2 separate regions of the Homo sapiens genome follow, and region 2 is linked to region 1. Evidence: fine-mapped expression QTL. A gene starts in region 1. The other region holds a variant in brackets. All regions are shown on one strand. Distances are from middle to middle.

Region 1 (8,337 bases):
CGATTTCCTACTCAGATTATTTTCCCTTGGACTGAATGAATGCAACTCCACACTCCTTTCTTCACTCATTTCCCTCTTCTTTTGAGGTCTCTTTCAGAGTTAGCTTTAATTAGCAAGCTCCAAACTGACTGGCTGGGCCAAACAGGGCTGGAAGCTGCTGAGTTGTTAGGGGTTGGATGAGGGCTGAGGGAGGACACAGAGTGAGTAGACAAGGCTTCACATACTGGGAGATCTGGCTGGGCTTCAAGAGAGGGGGTTGGTGGTGGTGTGGCTAAGTTCCAAATGTTGGCCTGAAGCCAGTGCTCAAAGAAAGGGGGCCCTTGAGACAGTCCAAATGGCTCCCTTTGGTAAGTGACCTCCCAGTCCTTCTCAAGTGTTAAGGGTTTCTTTTGGATCGTCAAAGACCGGAGCGGTCAAGCTGTTTCCCCACTGAATTCCCTCAATCACATTTATGTTCTTTTCCTCCCAGCCACTCCCATGGTTCAAGCTTTGACTACAACCAGAATTCAGAGGCAGGCAGAAGGATTCCAGTGCTGGAGAGGTGAGTGAAGTAAAAAAGTTCTCATGGTGTGCATGTTGGGACGGAAAAGCCTGACCTTGGGACATAAGCTCCAAGGCTCTGTTGCCAGATGAGGTGGAGGGAGAAGTTAGCCCTGAAGTGTGTGTTCTGGAAGTGTTTGCTTGTAAGCTAGAGACAACAGTTGCAAAAAGTGTGATTTGAGGGAGCTGAAAAATACTGATCTCAAAGTGGGGAAGAAGATGTTGAAAAGGGAAGGAGCTGGAGAAAGCCTCAGCTTCCACTCATACAAAAGCTAAAGGGCTAAAATCTTGGCTGGATCTGGACATTTCTCAACGTCTAAAATTTTGGAAATTTTTATAAAGATTATTAATCTTTCATTTTTACATTTAATTTATTTAAAAAGTTCAGTTTCTCAGTCATACTAGCCACATTTCTTTTTCTTTTTCTTTTTTTTTGAGACAGAGTCTCACTCTGTTGCCCAGGCTGAAGTACAGTGTATTAATCTATTCCATGGAGTGGAGTGGATAATCTATTCCATGGATTATCATTTTACTTTGTTAGTGGTATCCTTAGAAGCACAAAATTTTTAAATTTTTTTTTTTTTTTGAGGCAGAGTCTCACTGTGTCCCCCAGGCTGGAGTGCAGTGGTGCTATCTCTGCTCACTGCAGGCTCCGCCTTCTGGGTTCAAGCGATTCTTGTGCCTCAGCCTCCTGAGTAGCTGGGATTACAGGTGTGTACCACCACGCCCAGCTGATTTTTGTATTTTTAGTAGAGATGGGTTTTTGTCATATTGGCCAGGCTGGTCTCAAACTCCTGACCTCAAGTGATCCACCTCCCTCCCTCCCAAAGTGCTGGGATTACCATGTCTGGCTTGGAAATTATTTTGAAATAATTATAGATCAGAGGAAGTTGTAAAAATAGCACATGAAGTCTTGTGTACCTTTCACTCAGTTTCCCCTAATGGTGACATCTTATGTAACTGTAGCATAAAATCAAAACCAAAAAGTTGATATTGGTACAGTATTGTTAACTGGCCTGCAGACCTCACTCAGTTTTCACCATTTTTTACATGCATTTATTTGTTTGTTTGTAGTTCTGTGCAGTTTTATATCTTGTATAGATTTGGATAATCACCACCACAATCAAGATACAAAACCCATCACCACAAAGGAACCCCCTTGTGCTATTCCTTTATGTTTGTCCCCACCCCCCTCCATCCTTGTCCCCTGGCAGCCAGTAATCTGGTCTTCATTTCTATAGTTTTGTCATTTTGAGAATGGTATGCGAGTGGAATAATACAGTTTCAGCATTTTTTGTTTGGAGACAGGGTCTCACTCTATCACCCAGGCTGGAGTGCAGTGGCAAGATCATGGCTCACTGCAGCCTTCACCTCCTGGGCTCAAGTGACACTCCCGCCTAGCCTCCTGAGTAGCTGGGACCACAGATTTGGCTAACTTTTCTATTTTTTGTAGAGATGGGGGTCTCCCTATGTTGCCCAGGCTGGTCTCCAACTCCTGGGCTCAAGTGATCCTCCTGCCTTGGCCTCTCAAAGTGCTGGGATTGCAGGCATGAGCCACTGTGCCCAGCTCAGCATTAATTTTTAATTTAACTAATTCCTAAGCTCTTGACTGAAATACAAGAAGTTCTCTAACAGTTTATTTATTTTAATATTGAGCTTACCGCATTCTCTGGATCCTTCTAGTTTCTTTTTTTTTTCTTTTTTTCTGATGTGGAGTCTCTGTCACCCAGGCTGGAGTGCAGTGGTGCCATCTCAGCTCACTGCAACCTCCGTCTCCTGGGTTTAAGTGATTCTTGTGCCTCAGTCTCTGGAGTAGCTGGGATTACAGGTACCCGCCACCACACCCGGCTAATTTTTGTATTTTTAGTAGAGACAGGGTTTCACCGTGTTGGTCCGGCTGGTCTTGAACTTCTGATCTCAGGTGATCCGCCTGCTTCGGCCTCCCAAAGTGCTGGGATTATAGGCGTGAGCCACCGCGCCCGGCCCCGTCTAGTTTCTTAATTTCCCTCTTCACCTACGATATTATCTTCCACTCCAACATTCTGGTCTCATTTCTCCTTGAGAGAAATCTACATGTCTAAATTTACTAGGCTGGTCTAGCACGCTCTTGTGTGTTCCCCTCCCTCCTTTGCCCCTCTATTTATAGCCAGGCTAATTTTGGGTGGCCTCTCTCTCTCTTCTTTCCTGATCTTTCCTCCTGTGGTGGTGAGGTGACTTCTCAAATATTTGGAGAGAGGAGGTCAGAAGCAGATTCTTGGCATCTGATTTCAGCCCTGGATCACAGAAGCCAGTGGAGTGGGAATGGAGACAGGCAGAAGCTGCAGGTGCAGATAGGAGGCAGCTTGGGCTCTAAAGGCATTTTGAGCTGGGTCGGGGGCGGGGGGACCTGGGCAGGGAGTCAGTAGTCCCAGTTCTGTCCTAATTTTGCAATTCTGCATTCCCATGTCAGCTCTTCTCTACTGTCTGGGGCTCTGAGATATTAAAAAGGATGGGGAGGGCATGGTGAAAGTAGAATCCTGGTGCCAGCCCTGCTGACAGCATATGTATTTCCTTATAGTACCTGTTTAGAGATGTGTTAGTGCTCTGGAGGGGATAGCCACAGGTGTAGTATTGGAAAACAGAGGGCCAGACTTCCAAATGTCTGTTAACTTATCCAAGGCAAAGACTGTCCCAGGGCAGCAGAGTAAGAACCCACTTTTTTTTTGTTTTCAAAGAAGTATAATCCTGAACAATGAAGTAGGAAAGACAGAACACAGGAAGAGGAAGGAGGTAGGACACTTATTGGAACTTTTAAGAAAGGGAAAGAGAAGAAAGAATCGTAAGAATATGATAGTGTTTGAAGGGCAGAGACAACACTAGAAACATTGAGAAATACTCTGAGAAAGATTCCAAGTGTGGCAGAGACAAGAATGATGACAAAATAGAATTTGGGATGAGACAAAATCAGATAGTGAGAGAGAGAAGGGAAGATGGACAGATGTATATTCACAAGACCAACACCAGTAAGCAAGGGGAGTAGGAAGGGGAAGTGGGAGCATTCGAGGTTCCCATTATGCCAAATTATTTCCTGTCTCTCCTTCTGGCCCCATTTCTGTATCGGAGTTATAAATAGCAGAGAGTTGGAAAGTGTCCCCCCACCCCCTTGCCTCTGTCCCAGCCTGAGGGAAAGGGAGAGGAAGAGGGACAGGCCAATGGGTCCCTGTGGAGATCCCATCTCAGCCCCACCCAGGTCCTGCTGAGCCAGTCCAGGACTCTGCCCCCTCCCATCCCCTTTCATGGATAGGAAATGTGCAGTCCTGGGACGGGTCTGGTAGCTGGGGACACCCTTTACATCCCTCTGCCTCTTGGGTCCAGTCTCTTTCATCTTTGCCTTCTTTGACACCCACTCCCCTCCCCACTGCTTAATTTCCTCTTCCTGTAATCATCCCCAGTCGTTTTCTTTTCTCCCTTCATTCCATCCCTTGTCAATTAATCTCTTGCCCTTCTTTCTTCCTCTCTATTCCTTTCCTTTTTCCATTTCTCCATTTGCTCCCCGTATCTCCCGAGTTTCTCTCTCTCTTCTTGCCTCTTTTTCTCTGTTCCCTTGAATCCTGACGATGTGGCTAGCACTGCTGTGGTCATTGCCGGGCTGGGGGCGGGGGATGGGATAGGATGGGGGAGGGCAGCGGTCTGATCCCAACAGCAGAAAGAGTGCTCTATGTGACCATGGGGGAACAGGGAGCACTAAGATGCCACGCTGCACCCAGGCCCAGGACGGCTCCCCTTTCATTTCCTCTCTATCTGCACATCTCTCTTCCCAGGTTGTCTTTTAGCGTCTTCCCAACTTCTCATCTCTTACCCTCCTTCCTCTGTTTCAGCCCCTCTCTTTCTATCTGTACTTCTCTCCCTCCGCATTCCAAGGCGCCGCCTCCACCACTCCCGGGGTGGGGATGGGGTTGGGGGAGAAGGGGAGGAGAGCGCCGCGCAGGGGCGGAGCCGGAGACGGTGCTGGGCTTGGGGGGCGTGGTGGTGGGGGGTCAGCAAGGCTAGTTTCCATCCCAGCCACCAGCCTGGGCATCCCCTTGGAGACGGGCTTGGGTCTCCACCTGCCGCGGGAGCGAGGGGCGGGGCCGGAGGCGGGGCCTGAGTGGCGTCCCCGGGAGAGGAGGCGGGAGCCGGAGTGGGCGCCGGAGCTGCGGCTGCTGTAGTTGTCCTAGCCGGTGCTGGGGCGGCGGGGTGGCGGAGCGGCGGGCGGGCGGGAGGGCTGGCGGGGCGAACGTCTGGGAGACGTCTGAAAGACCAACGAGACTTTGGAGACCAGAGACGCGCCTGGGGGGACCTGGGGCTTGGGGCGTGCGAGATTTCCCTTGCATTCGCTGGGAGCTCGCGCAGGGATCGTCCCATGGCCGGGGCTCGGAGCCGCGACCCTTGGGGGGCCTCCGGGATTTGCTACCTTTTTGGCTCCCTGCTCGTCGAACTGCTCTTCTCACGGGCTGTCGCCTTCAATCTGGACGTGATGGGTGCCTTGCGCAAGGAGGGCGAGCCAGGCAGCCTCTTCGGCTTCTCTGTGGCCCTGCACCGGCAGTTGCAGCCCCGACCCCAGAGCTGGTGAGTCACCGCACCCGCCCAGAGTCGCCATGCCCGAGCCACAGATCGTCCCCCTCCCCACTCTGTGGGCCTCCTCATTTCTCTGTTTTCTAGCCCCACCAAGACCTAGACTGCCCACAGACATCCCACATCCCAACCTGGAGCCTTGCCTCATCTGGCTTGCGTCTGAAGCTGCACTTCCCGGCCCTGAGACCAGTATTTTGCTTTAGGGATGAGTTGGAAAGCAAGGTTCTTGTCTTGGCAGCGAACCATCTCCTTCTTCTGGGCCTTTCCCCCAACTTGCATCCTTGATCCAGCCCCAGGGCCTCTGGCTCCCCTGCTTCTTCCAAGGGCTGAATTCCCCAAGGGAGGGAGACTGTCTGTCTCTGCTTAGAATGGGAGGAGATGGAAAGGACATAGAAGTTGAGGGTGCCATGAGAGGGATGCATGCAGGGCAGACTCCAGAAATAACTTCCTGCTAGAGCATTGCCATGGATGGAATGAGGGCAGCAGGGCACTGGAAGGCCAGGAGAGAGCTTCCACTTCTGTGGCTTAAGACCACGGGAAGATTGGGAGAGGATCTGCAGGTCTGCCAACCTGCAGTAGGTGGCTTGGTGATAGAGAGTGGCAGCAAACTGAACCCTCAAAGTACTAGTAGCAGTAGTAGTAGCCGCAGCAGCTGTAGCAGTGAGAGAGATCCAGGAAGGATGCTGGCCAGGCTGCTCCCCTTCCTCCTCCTTAGCAAATTTCCAACTCCAGGAATCTCAGCAGCTGGGAAGGGCCAGGAGGAGTAAGGGGTGGAGGACAATTCTAATTTTTTCTAATCAGTTCAGGACCCATGGGAGATGGATATACTTTTGTGAGGGGCCTGTGACTGGTCATGTTGCCTGTATCCTTGGCTCTTGCTACATGTCTGATTGTAAAAAGGGAGGCCAGAGGTGAAGAAAGCTTCTCACCTGCTCCTGCTAGGGGGCTTTTCTCTCTTCAACCAGTGCCTAAGCCACATTAAGTATCCATTACTGGGATCAATGCTGTCCACTGGGACTGTCTTCTGCCTCTACTGTCGGTCTGGGGGCAGGGGGCAGGGACAAGAGCTCATTTCTCCTCACTTGCTTGGGGAGTGGGGGCCTAGCTCTAATCTTTCTTCTTCCATTATCCCTATCATCTGGTAGCAGGGTCGGTGGTCCCCAAAACTTTGGGAGAGATAGAAAGCAACGGACTTCATCTCCTCTTCTGTTTACCATCTGCTTCCTCATTCACCTTTGCTCCCTCCCTCCCTTCCTCCCTCCTTCTCCATCTGTCAGAGTTCGAGGACTGGAGGCCTTTTTAGGACATGCTGAACTCTCTAAGCTATTTCCAGGCAAATTCTAGGTTATTTTTAATAGCTTGGTCTCTTGTCATTTCCCCCTCCTCTCTGAAGGTGGCCCCTGGTTCCGTCTCCCAGAGCCAAGCTGGGGCCTTTCCCAGAGGGCCTGACTGCCTCACCCTGCTTTTGCTCCAGCAGGGGGTGCTCTGCTGCTGGGGGGCGGGGGGTATGTGAGAGGCCAGGCACCTGCTCAGTCCCTAGCTTTTGAGTTGCAGGTGGCCTGCCTTAGCACTCACTGATGAAAAAAACTTCTTGCCTGTTTTGATGTCTTTTAGTCTAGCTCTGGGATGAGACTTTAAGGTCTAACCTTTGCTGTGTGGTTCCAGCCTCATTTACTTCCCTCAACTGTAAAAAGGATATAAACATAGTATTACTACATAGGGTTGTTGTGCAGATTAAGAGTTCTTAATATATATAAAATGCTTAGAATAGTGCATAGCCCGCAGTGAGTGCTGTGAAGTGTTAGTAGTATTGCTATTCTTGTATTGTGATTCACAGAGCGCCTTACAGAGATTCTGGATCCAAAGGCTTGGCTAGAGGGCCTCCCTGGCTGAGCCAGCCTTCCAGGCCAAGCATCCTCCCCAGAGGGCCACCCAGATTGAGAGGGGCCAAAGAGGGGCTGGACTTGGGCTGGGGCCCTGGAGTGTGTGGAGAATCGAGAAGTGCAGTGGTCGTGGGCTACTCCTTTGTCTTCACTTAGCTGAGCTCCCAGGGGGTCCCTCTGCCCCCCAGCTGCCAACACTTTTTTTTTTTTTTTTTTGCTTTTCTCTCTGCAGTGGCTACACTGTGGCTGTCCAGAAGACTGGGGTGGTTAGGGCGTATGGCATGAAGCCAGGAAGGAGTGTGTGTGGCTGGACCAGAGGTGGAGGGACTAGAGAGGATGCTGCTGGGTGCTCTTGTTCCACTAAGGATCGATTGGTCTCTTCTCCACCAAGAGCGGACTGGGCATATCTATGCACTCAGCTTCTTTCTTCCACATGGGCCCCTCCCCTCCTCCCTACTTTTGGCCTCCAGAGGAGATGTGAACATAGAACAAGGATAACTTATCTGGGTGCTTAGCTATGCACTGACCAGCTGTGACACTGGGTATCTCTATGAGTCCACAAAATGTGTGTGTTCAGTAAACACATTCTGACACTCCCTATGGGGCAAGCACAAAGATGAAAAGACAGCCCCGACACTCAGAGAGATGGCCACTTCTATGTTTGGAGGCTGGGGGTACTGCTGACTTGCCTGAAGGTTGCCATTTATTTATGCAGGGCTGTATCACCCCGTTTCCTTTTCTGCCCAGGGTACCCTCATCTCCCCACTCTCTCCTTCCCTTTCTGGGGTGGTCTCAGTGTTCTAGAGACAGGTCAGTCACTGGGTGGAGTGACAAAGTGTTGGAGTTAGGCCCATGTGGATTTGAATTCCAGCATCACTGCTTAATGTCTTTGAGTGAGTTTTCTCATCTGAAAGACAAGAAAAGAATCCTTATCTCATAGGATTGTTCTGATGATTAAATGACATAATGCATGTGACTTGCCTATCCTGGTGCTTGGCACATATGTGGACAGTGATGAATGTTAGTTTCTTATATCCCTGGTGTCTAGCCTCGGATCTGACGTCATAGTAGGTGCTGAATAAATATGATTTCCTTGTCTCACCAGCGCCTGACACAGGGCTTGGCATACAATAGACTCTCAATAAGTAGTTGAATGCCAAATGTGTCTTCTCTTCTCTACTACTCCCTATACCCCTTCTCTGTCTTGACACTGGCTCTGACAAGGGATGGCAGCTGCTAAGAGATGAGGAGGAGTTGTGGGAAGGAAGAATGGCTCTCTGCCCTCCCCCTCCACCCCATCAGAGCTGGCACAGTGCCCCAC
Region 2 (8,337 bases), 31 kb after region 1:
TCTCAGAGGGAGTGGGAAGGGGTAAGGGGATATGTTTCAGATGACAGACTCATGGCGGGGGAGTGTCGGGGGCTGGCAGGGCGTTGGGGGTGGGTTGGTAGTGGTGAATGCTGGGGACAGAGTTGACTCATGGGACATATCCTGGCCTCATTTCGTCCTCAGGTCAGGCACTTCAGAGGGGCCATAGGAAGGGAAGGGTGCTCTTGGCAGAGGAAAAAGTAGGTGTACAGGACAGAGACAGCATGCCCTCTCCTGGAAAGGGTGAGAAGTTTAGTTCTGTGGGGAATGGGGTAAGTTGGACAAATAGGGGGAAGTGAGGTCAGAGAATAGCCACTTTTTAGAGATCCTTCCCTCCCTCCCTCCCTTCCTCCCTTCTTTCCTTCTTTCCTTTTTTTGAGACAGGGTCTCTGCTGCCCAGGCTGGGGTGCAGTGGCAGCAGTCTGGGCTCACTGCAACCTCAATGTCCCTAGGCTCAAGTGATCCTCTTACACCAGCCTCCTGATTTTCTGGGACTACAAGTGCATACCACCATGCCCAGCAATTTTTTTTTTTCTGTAATTTGTAGAGACAGGGTTTCACCCTGTTGCCCAGGTTGGTCTTGAACTCCTGGGCTCAGGTGATCCACCCACCTCGACTTCCCAAAGTGCTGGGATTACAGTTGGGAGCCACTGCGCCTGGCTGAGAAGAATTCTTTTTACAAAACATTATTAAACAACTTTTTTTGGAAGAGGCAGTACATTCACTTAGTACAAAATTAAAAAGATACTAAAGAGATTACAGGGAAAATTCTCTCTTCTACTCCTGTGACCCAACCACTCAGATCTCCTCTCTGGAGGCACTAAATGCCATATTGCCAATTTCTTGTGAATCCTTCCAGAGATGACCTGTGAACGAGCAGGGAACACACACACCACGTGTTTAGATCCATGTACATATATACATATACATATTCCCTTTTCTTTTACAAATAGTAGTATATTGTACACACTCTTGTATACCTTGCTTCCCCCCCTTCTTAACAATGTATTGGATTTAGTAGATAATAGCAAATGGGTTTCCAAAGTGATTGTACCCATTTACACGTCCACCAGCAATATTTGGTTTTATGTGTCTTTTATGTGTTCATATTATTATTGATGCATAGATTCCTATTTTATTCACTGATTTGTAACCTAATACCCTATTTATTTATTTACAGTTTCTTTGAGGTATAATATATATAAGAAGGTTTACATATTTACAGTATATAGATTATTTTTGACACAGTATATACCTGGGAAACCATTACCACAGTCGAGATAATGAACATGTCTATGTGTTAGGCTTTTGCATTGCTGTTAAGAAATACCTAAGGCTGGTTGATTTATAAAGAAAAAAAGTTTAATTGGTTCATAGTTCTGCAGACTGCACAGGAAGCATGGCACCAGTATCTGCTTGGCCTCTGGTGAGGGTCTCAGGGAGCTTACAATCATGGTGGAAGACGAAGGGGAGCAGTGTATCACATGGCAAGAGAGGGAGCAAGAGAGACCTTGCGTGAACTGCCAGAGCGAGAACTCACTCATCACCAAGGGGTTGGCACTGAGCCACTGATGAGGGGTTGGGACCTCAGGAGCCAAACACATCCCACCAGGCCCCACCTCTGACATTGAGGATTACATTTCAACATGAGATTTGGAGGGGACAAACATCCAAACTATATCAGTTTCCTTGTGTTTCTTTGTAATCCATTCGCCCCTCTTTCATCCCCATCTTCAGGTAACCGCTGATCTGCTCTCTGTCAGTATAGATTAATTTCTCTTCTCTTCTCTTCTCAGGCAGAGTCTCACTCTGTGGCCCAGGCTGGAGTGCAGTTGTTTGATCTTGGCTCATTGCAACCTCCACCTCCCAGGTTCAAGTGATTCTCCTGCCTCAGCCTCCTGAGTAGCTGGGATTACAAGCATGCACCACCATGCCCGGCTAATTTTTGTATTTTTAGTAGAGACGGTGTTTCACCATATTGACCAGGCTGGTCTCAAACTCCTGACCTCGGGTGATCCGCCTACCTTGGCCTCCCAAATAGTTTGCATTTTCTGGAATTTTGTGTAAATGGAATCCTATAATGTATGGGATTTCAGCATCTGGCTTATTTCATTCAGCATGTTTATTTGGAGAGTCATCCATGTTGTACATGCATCCGCAGTTCATTTCCATTTCTGAGTAGTATTCCATTGTATGGATATACCACATATATTTTTATCCATTCACTTGTTGATAAACGTTTGGGTTGTTTCCAATTTCTGACTGTTAGAAATAAAGCTACTATGAACTGTTTGTGTACATGGGTTTGTGTGGACGTATGCTTTTATTTCTCTTGGGTGAATACCTGGGTGTGTATTTTGATGTTCAAATTGCCCTAGATTTGGCTGGGGGAGCACCTGCAAGCTGGCTCCTGTCTCCTTTTGACACAACTCCATCACTCTTTGAGCATTTTCTTACTTTCTGCTACAAGAAGATGTTCCAGGCTCATCTTGTATTTCCCCTGCTCCAGCCCCGAACTTAGTTATTTCTCAAAGAAGCACTGGTCTTTTGTGAGGAGGATGGTATTTAAAAACCAAGATCTGAATGCTGGATGTGATTATCACTGGGGAGTAATTGCTCCTGGGCCTGCTCCATGGACACAGAAAGAGGCAAAGTAGTATTATCCTGTGCTTTTTATTTGCTCTTTTCTTTTTCTTTTCCTTTTTTTTTTTTTTTTTTCCTGAGACAGAGTCTCACTCTGTCGCCCAGGCTGAAGTGCAGTGGCACTATCTCGGCTTGCTGCAACCTCCGACTCCCGGATTCAAGCGATTCTCCCTCCTCAGCCTCCCGAGTAGCTGGGATTACAGGCGCATGCCACCACACTTGGCTAATTTTTGTATTTTTAGTAGAGACAGGGTTTTACCATGTTGGCCAGGCTGGTCTCGAACTCCTGACCTCAGGTGATCCACCAGCCTCGGCCTCCCAAAGTGCTGGGATTACAGGTATGAGCTGCCGTGCCCGGCTTACTTACTCTTTTCTGCGTGAGGTTGAATTTTTGTTTCTTATAATTAAGAGCCTCTGTATTTCCTTTTCTAGAAATTTTCATTTTATTTTTTATTTTTGAGATAGCCTTGCTCTGTCACTCAGGCTGGAGTGTAGTGTGCGATCACAGCTCACTGCAGCCTCAACCTCTCAGGCTCAAGCAATCCTCCCACCTTAGCCTCCTGAGTAGTGGTCACCACAGGTATATGCCAACATGCCCAGCTAATTTTTCTTTTTTTTGAGACGGAGTCTTGCTCTGTCACCCAGGCTGGAGTGCAGTGGCATGATCTCTGCTCACTGCAAGCTCTGCCTCCCGGGTTCATGCCATTCTCCTGTCTCAGCCTCCCGAGTAGCTGGAACTACAGGCGCCCGCCACCACGCCCGGCTAATTTTTTTTTGTATTTTTAGTAGAGATGGGTTTTCACCGAGTTAGTGAGGATGGTCTCGATCTCCTGACCTCGTGATCCACCCTCCTCGGCCTCTGAAAGTGCTGGGATTGCAGGCGTGAGCCACCATGCCTGGCCAGACACACATATATATTTTTTTAAATTTTCTTTTTTTAATTACACTTTAAGTTCTAGGGTACATGTGCACAACGTGCAGGTTTGTTACATATGTATACATGTACCATGTTGGTGTGCTGCACCCATTAGCTGGTCATTTACATTAGGTATATCTCCTAATGCTATCCTTCCCCCCACCCCACCCCACGACAGGCCCCAATGTGTGGTGTTCCCCACCCTGCAGATACACAGATTTTCAATTGTGAGGGGTATCAGTCCCCTAGGTCCTGAGTTGTTCAAGGGTCAACTGTACAGCCATGTGCTGCATAACACATTTAGCTCAATGACAGAGCACATATATGATGGAGGTACCATAAGATTATTATGTAGCTGAAAAATCCCTGTCCTGTAGTGATGTCTTGATGATCCTGACCTTGTGTAGACCTAGGCTAATGTGTGTCTTTGTGTCTTAGCTTTTAACAAAAAAGTTAAAAAAATTTAAAAAATAGAAAAAGCTTATAGAATAAGGATATAAAGAAATAAAATATTTTTGTACAGCTGTAGAATATTTATGTTTTAAGCTAAGTGTTATTACAAGAGTCAAAGTTAAAAAAATTAAAAAGTTTATAAAGTAAAAAAGTTGCAGTAAGCTAAGGCTAGTTTATTATTGAAGAAAAGAAAAAAAAAATGTAAATAAATTTAGTGTAGTCACTCACTGACTCACCCAGAGCAACTTCTTGTCCTGCAAAGTCCATTCATGATATGTGCCCTATATAGGTATGCCGTTTTTAAATCTTTTATACTGTATTTTTTACCACACCTTTTCCACGTTTAGATACATAAATACTTAACATGGTGTTACAATTGCCTATAGTATTGAGTACAGTAACATGCTGTACAGGCTTGCAGCCTAGGAGCAATAGGTTA[C/T]GCCATATAGCCTAGCTGTATAGTAGGCTACACCATCCAAGCTTGTGTAAGGACACTCTATGATGATGTTCCCGTAATGGTAAAATCACCTAACGATGCATTTCTCGGAACTTATTCCTGTTGTTAAGCAACATATGACTTAACATGTGACTGTATATTCAGAGTTGTGCAACCAGCCACCACAATCAATTTTAGAACATTTTCGTTACCCCAAAAGAAACTTGTGCTTTTACCACTTACTCCCATTTCCCCCATCCCCATCCCAACCCCAGTACCATCAATTTCCTTTCCGTAGGCAATCACTACTCTACTTATGTCTGTATGGATTTACTTATTCTTGACATTTCATGTAATTGGAATCATACTACATGTGGCCTATGTGACTGGCTTTTCACACAGCATAATGCTTCCAAAGTTTACACATGTTGTAGCATGTATCAATACTTCATTCCTTTTACGTCCAAGTAGCATTGCATTGTACAGATATGCCACATTTTGTTTATTTATTCAACAGTTGATAGACATTTGGGTTGTTTCCACTTTTGGGGTACTATAAACAATGCTGCTATGAATTCTTGTCTTCATTTTATCTTTCTTTCTCCTAAATCATTAATCTCTGCCTTTCCATGGATCTTTCAAAATATGAATATGCTCTAATATATTTCAGGTTAATAATAAACTGACCCTCTTGACACCACATGTCACTTTAGCTAAAACTCCATTTTACAAATCTATGTCAAAGTCTTTTTTTTTTGGCAGGATCTTGCTCTGTTGCCTAGGCTGGAGTGCACCATTCTGACTCACTGCAGCCTCAAACTCCTGGGGTTGTGCTGCCCTTCCTGCTTCAGCCTCTTGAGTAGCTAGGACTATAGGTGCATACCACCATGCCTACTAACTTTTAAAAATTTTTGTAGAGACAGGGTATCTCTCAGGGTTGCCCAGGCTGATCTTGAACTCCTGGCCTCAAGCCATCCTCCTGTCTTGGTCTCCCAAAGTGCTGGGATTACAGGCGTGAGCTACTGTGCCAAGCCCAAGAAATTTTTATTAGTGATGGATTGGAGTGGGAGAAAGAGTGAATGGAAGGTGAGGAAACCAAGATAACACGAGCAGATGACTCAAGAATTATGACTTTGGGCGGGCGTGGTGGCTCGTGCCTGTAATCCAAGTACTTTGGGAGGCCGAGAGGAAATGACTGCTTGAGCCCAGGAGTTTGAGACCAGCTTGGGCAACATAGGCTGTTGTTTTTCTCTACAAAAAATAAAAAAATTAGCCAATTAGCCGGGTGTGGTGGCATGCGCCTGTAGCCCCAGCTACTTAGGAGGCAGAGGCAAGGGGATTGCTTGAGCCTGCAAGTTCAGGGTTACAGTGAACCATGACTGGGTCAGTGTACTCCAGCCTGGGAGACAGAGAGAGACCCTGTCTCTAAAAACAAAACAAAACAAAACAAAGAAACCCGAAACTATTATTATCAAGCCTATTAATTATTTCCACATGCCAGGTCCAGTGAATATTCCCTGTTCTCATCTTATCTGACTTTTCAACAGCTTCAGAAATAGTTGGCTACTATTTCTTCTTGAAAAATTCTCTCATCTAGGCTGTCCTAACATAACAGTCTTCTTGTTTCTATAACATTCCCGTGGCTGTTACTTCTTAGAAACTTCTTTTTTTAGATCTTTCTCATCTACTCGACCTTTAAATTTTGTTTCTTTGGGTTTAGTCTTGGGTCTTTCTCTGTCTAAATTCTCTCATTAAATAACCTCATCTTTTTTTTTTTAATATAGACTTTATTTTTTAGAGCAGTTTTAGCTTCATAGAAAAGTTGAGGAAAGTACAGAGATTTTCCACATACCCTTTGTCCTCACACATGACTAGCCTTCCTCATTATCAGTATCCCCCACCAGAGTGGACATTTATTACAATTGATGAACCTACATTGACACATAATTTTCACCAAATCCCATCCATTTTCATGGTTTAAAATGCCATGTATATGCAAATTATTCACACATTTATATCTTTAGTGCAGATCCTTCCTTTGAGTTTCAAATTTGTATACCCAGTTGTGTACTTGATCCTCCTCCTCAGCATATCTTCTGGACATATAAAACTTAACATGTCCAAAATGACACTTACGGTACTCCCCAAGTCTCTTGTCTTACTCTGCCCATCTTCTTCATCATCTCAGTGAATGGCACCATTAGCTTCTTGATTGCTCAACCAAAAACCTAGGATTTATTCTATTTCTTCTCTGTCTCCTCCTTTTCTTTTCTCATTTCTAACTTTGTATAATGGAGAATTTTGAATATACACAAAAGTTGGCAGAACAGTATAAGATACCCCCATGTATACATCATTCATCCCAACAACTATCAACCCACAGCCAATCCTTCCCCATCCACATCCTTTTCTACTTTCTGCTTCCTTCTCCTGTGTGTCATTTTGAAGCAAATCCCAAACATCATGTCATTTCATCTCCATCTGTATCTCTCTATAACATATATATGACTTTCTTTTCTTTTCTTTTTTTTTGAGGCAGAGTCCCGCTCTTTTGCTAGGCTGGAGTGCAGTGGGGCGATCTCGGCTCACTGCAACCTCCGCCTCCTGGGTTCAAGCAATTCTCCTGCCTCAGCCTCCTGAGTAGCTGGGACTACAGGCACGCACCACCACACCCAGCTAATTTTTGTATTTTTAGTAGAGACAGGGTTTCACCATGTTGACCAGGATGGTCTCGATCTCTTGACCTCGTGATCTGCCTGCCTTGGCCTCCAAAAGTGCTGGGATTACAGGTGTGAGCCACCGCGCCCGGCCAATATATATATAACTTTCAAGTTACTCACAAGTCCTGTCAGCTCTATTTCCCAGTTCATTAATTTCATGCATTTCTTTCATCTCCACTGGCATAACCCTAGACCAGATCATGACCCTCCGCTGCCTGGCCCACTGCAAGGGCCTCATTAACTGTCTCTCCACTTTCACCCACTGCTTAAAACCTTTTAGTGGATTCCCATTATCTTTGGTACAAAATCTGAACTCCTTACTGTAGCCCATAAGGCCCTGTGTGATCTGGCCCCTGTCCACCTCTCATGCTACCCTCCCTTAACCCTGTGTTTTAGCTATACAATCTTCTTTCAGTTCCTCATACTCTCACTCCTTTTAGCTTCAGTGCTGTTGAGCTTGTCTTCCTCTTCCTGATATGCTTGCTTTCTTTTCAGCAGTCCCTCCTCCCTCCTGCCTAGTTAATTTTTTAACTCATTGTTTGGTTCTTGTATCAAGCATCCCTTCCCTTATTCATTTTGGTCAACAGCCCTTAGGCCAGTTTGTGATACTGTTCATGACTGTTATTATGGTATTAGTGTCTGCCCATGAGCTCCATAACAGTAAGGATTGTGTCCTTTTCCCTTATCACCACGTGTTTAGCATCTAGCATGTGCCTGGCAAGTAGTAGACACTAAAAATGTGTATGTCAAATAGATGATGAATACCTTTATCACATTTAAGCTTTTAAATTTTTCTATATTTTAATTTAATTTTATAGATGGTGTATCACTCTGTTGTGTAGGCTGGAGTGCAGTGGCTATTCATATGTGTGATTACAGCACTGTGGCCTCGAACTCCTGCCCTCAAGGGATCCTCCTGCCTCAGCCTCCTGAGTACCTGGGACTACAGGTGTGCACCACCAGGCCTGGCTTGTCTATATTTTAAAATTGGCTGTCTCCTCTAGCATGTTAGCTCTACAATGCCAGAGTATATTTTTCTCTTCATGGTAATATCTTCAGGGCCATTTCTAGTGCCTGTTTCAGGGACCACTCAATACACATTTAGTAGATGTATTAATGAAAGGTCCATATCATTGAGAAAGGACCCATAT

The links.
Region 2: its variant is fine-mapped to the expression of ITGA7 in whole blood (GTEx, PIP above 0.99).

Annotation. Positions count from the first base shown.
Region 1 is chr12:55,704,267-55,712,603 of GRCh38, reverse strand. It overlaps ITGA7 (integrin subunit alpha 7), which reads left to right and starts at 4,700. Exons shown (of 25, transcript NM_002206.3): 1 at 4,700-5,127. The coding sequence starts at 4,922. RefSeq lists a silencer at 4,577-4,786.
Region 2 is chr12:55,673,123-55,681,459 of GRCh38, reverse strand. No RefSeq gene overlaps it. Among named protein-coding and RNA genes, the nearest start is that of TMT1B, 4.4 kb to the left of the region's middle. RefSeq lists enhancers at 1-65, 7,703-7,842. The variant C/T (reference allele first, on the strand shown) is at 4,470.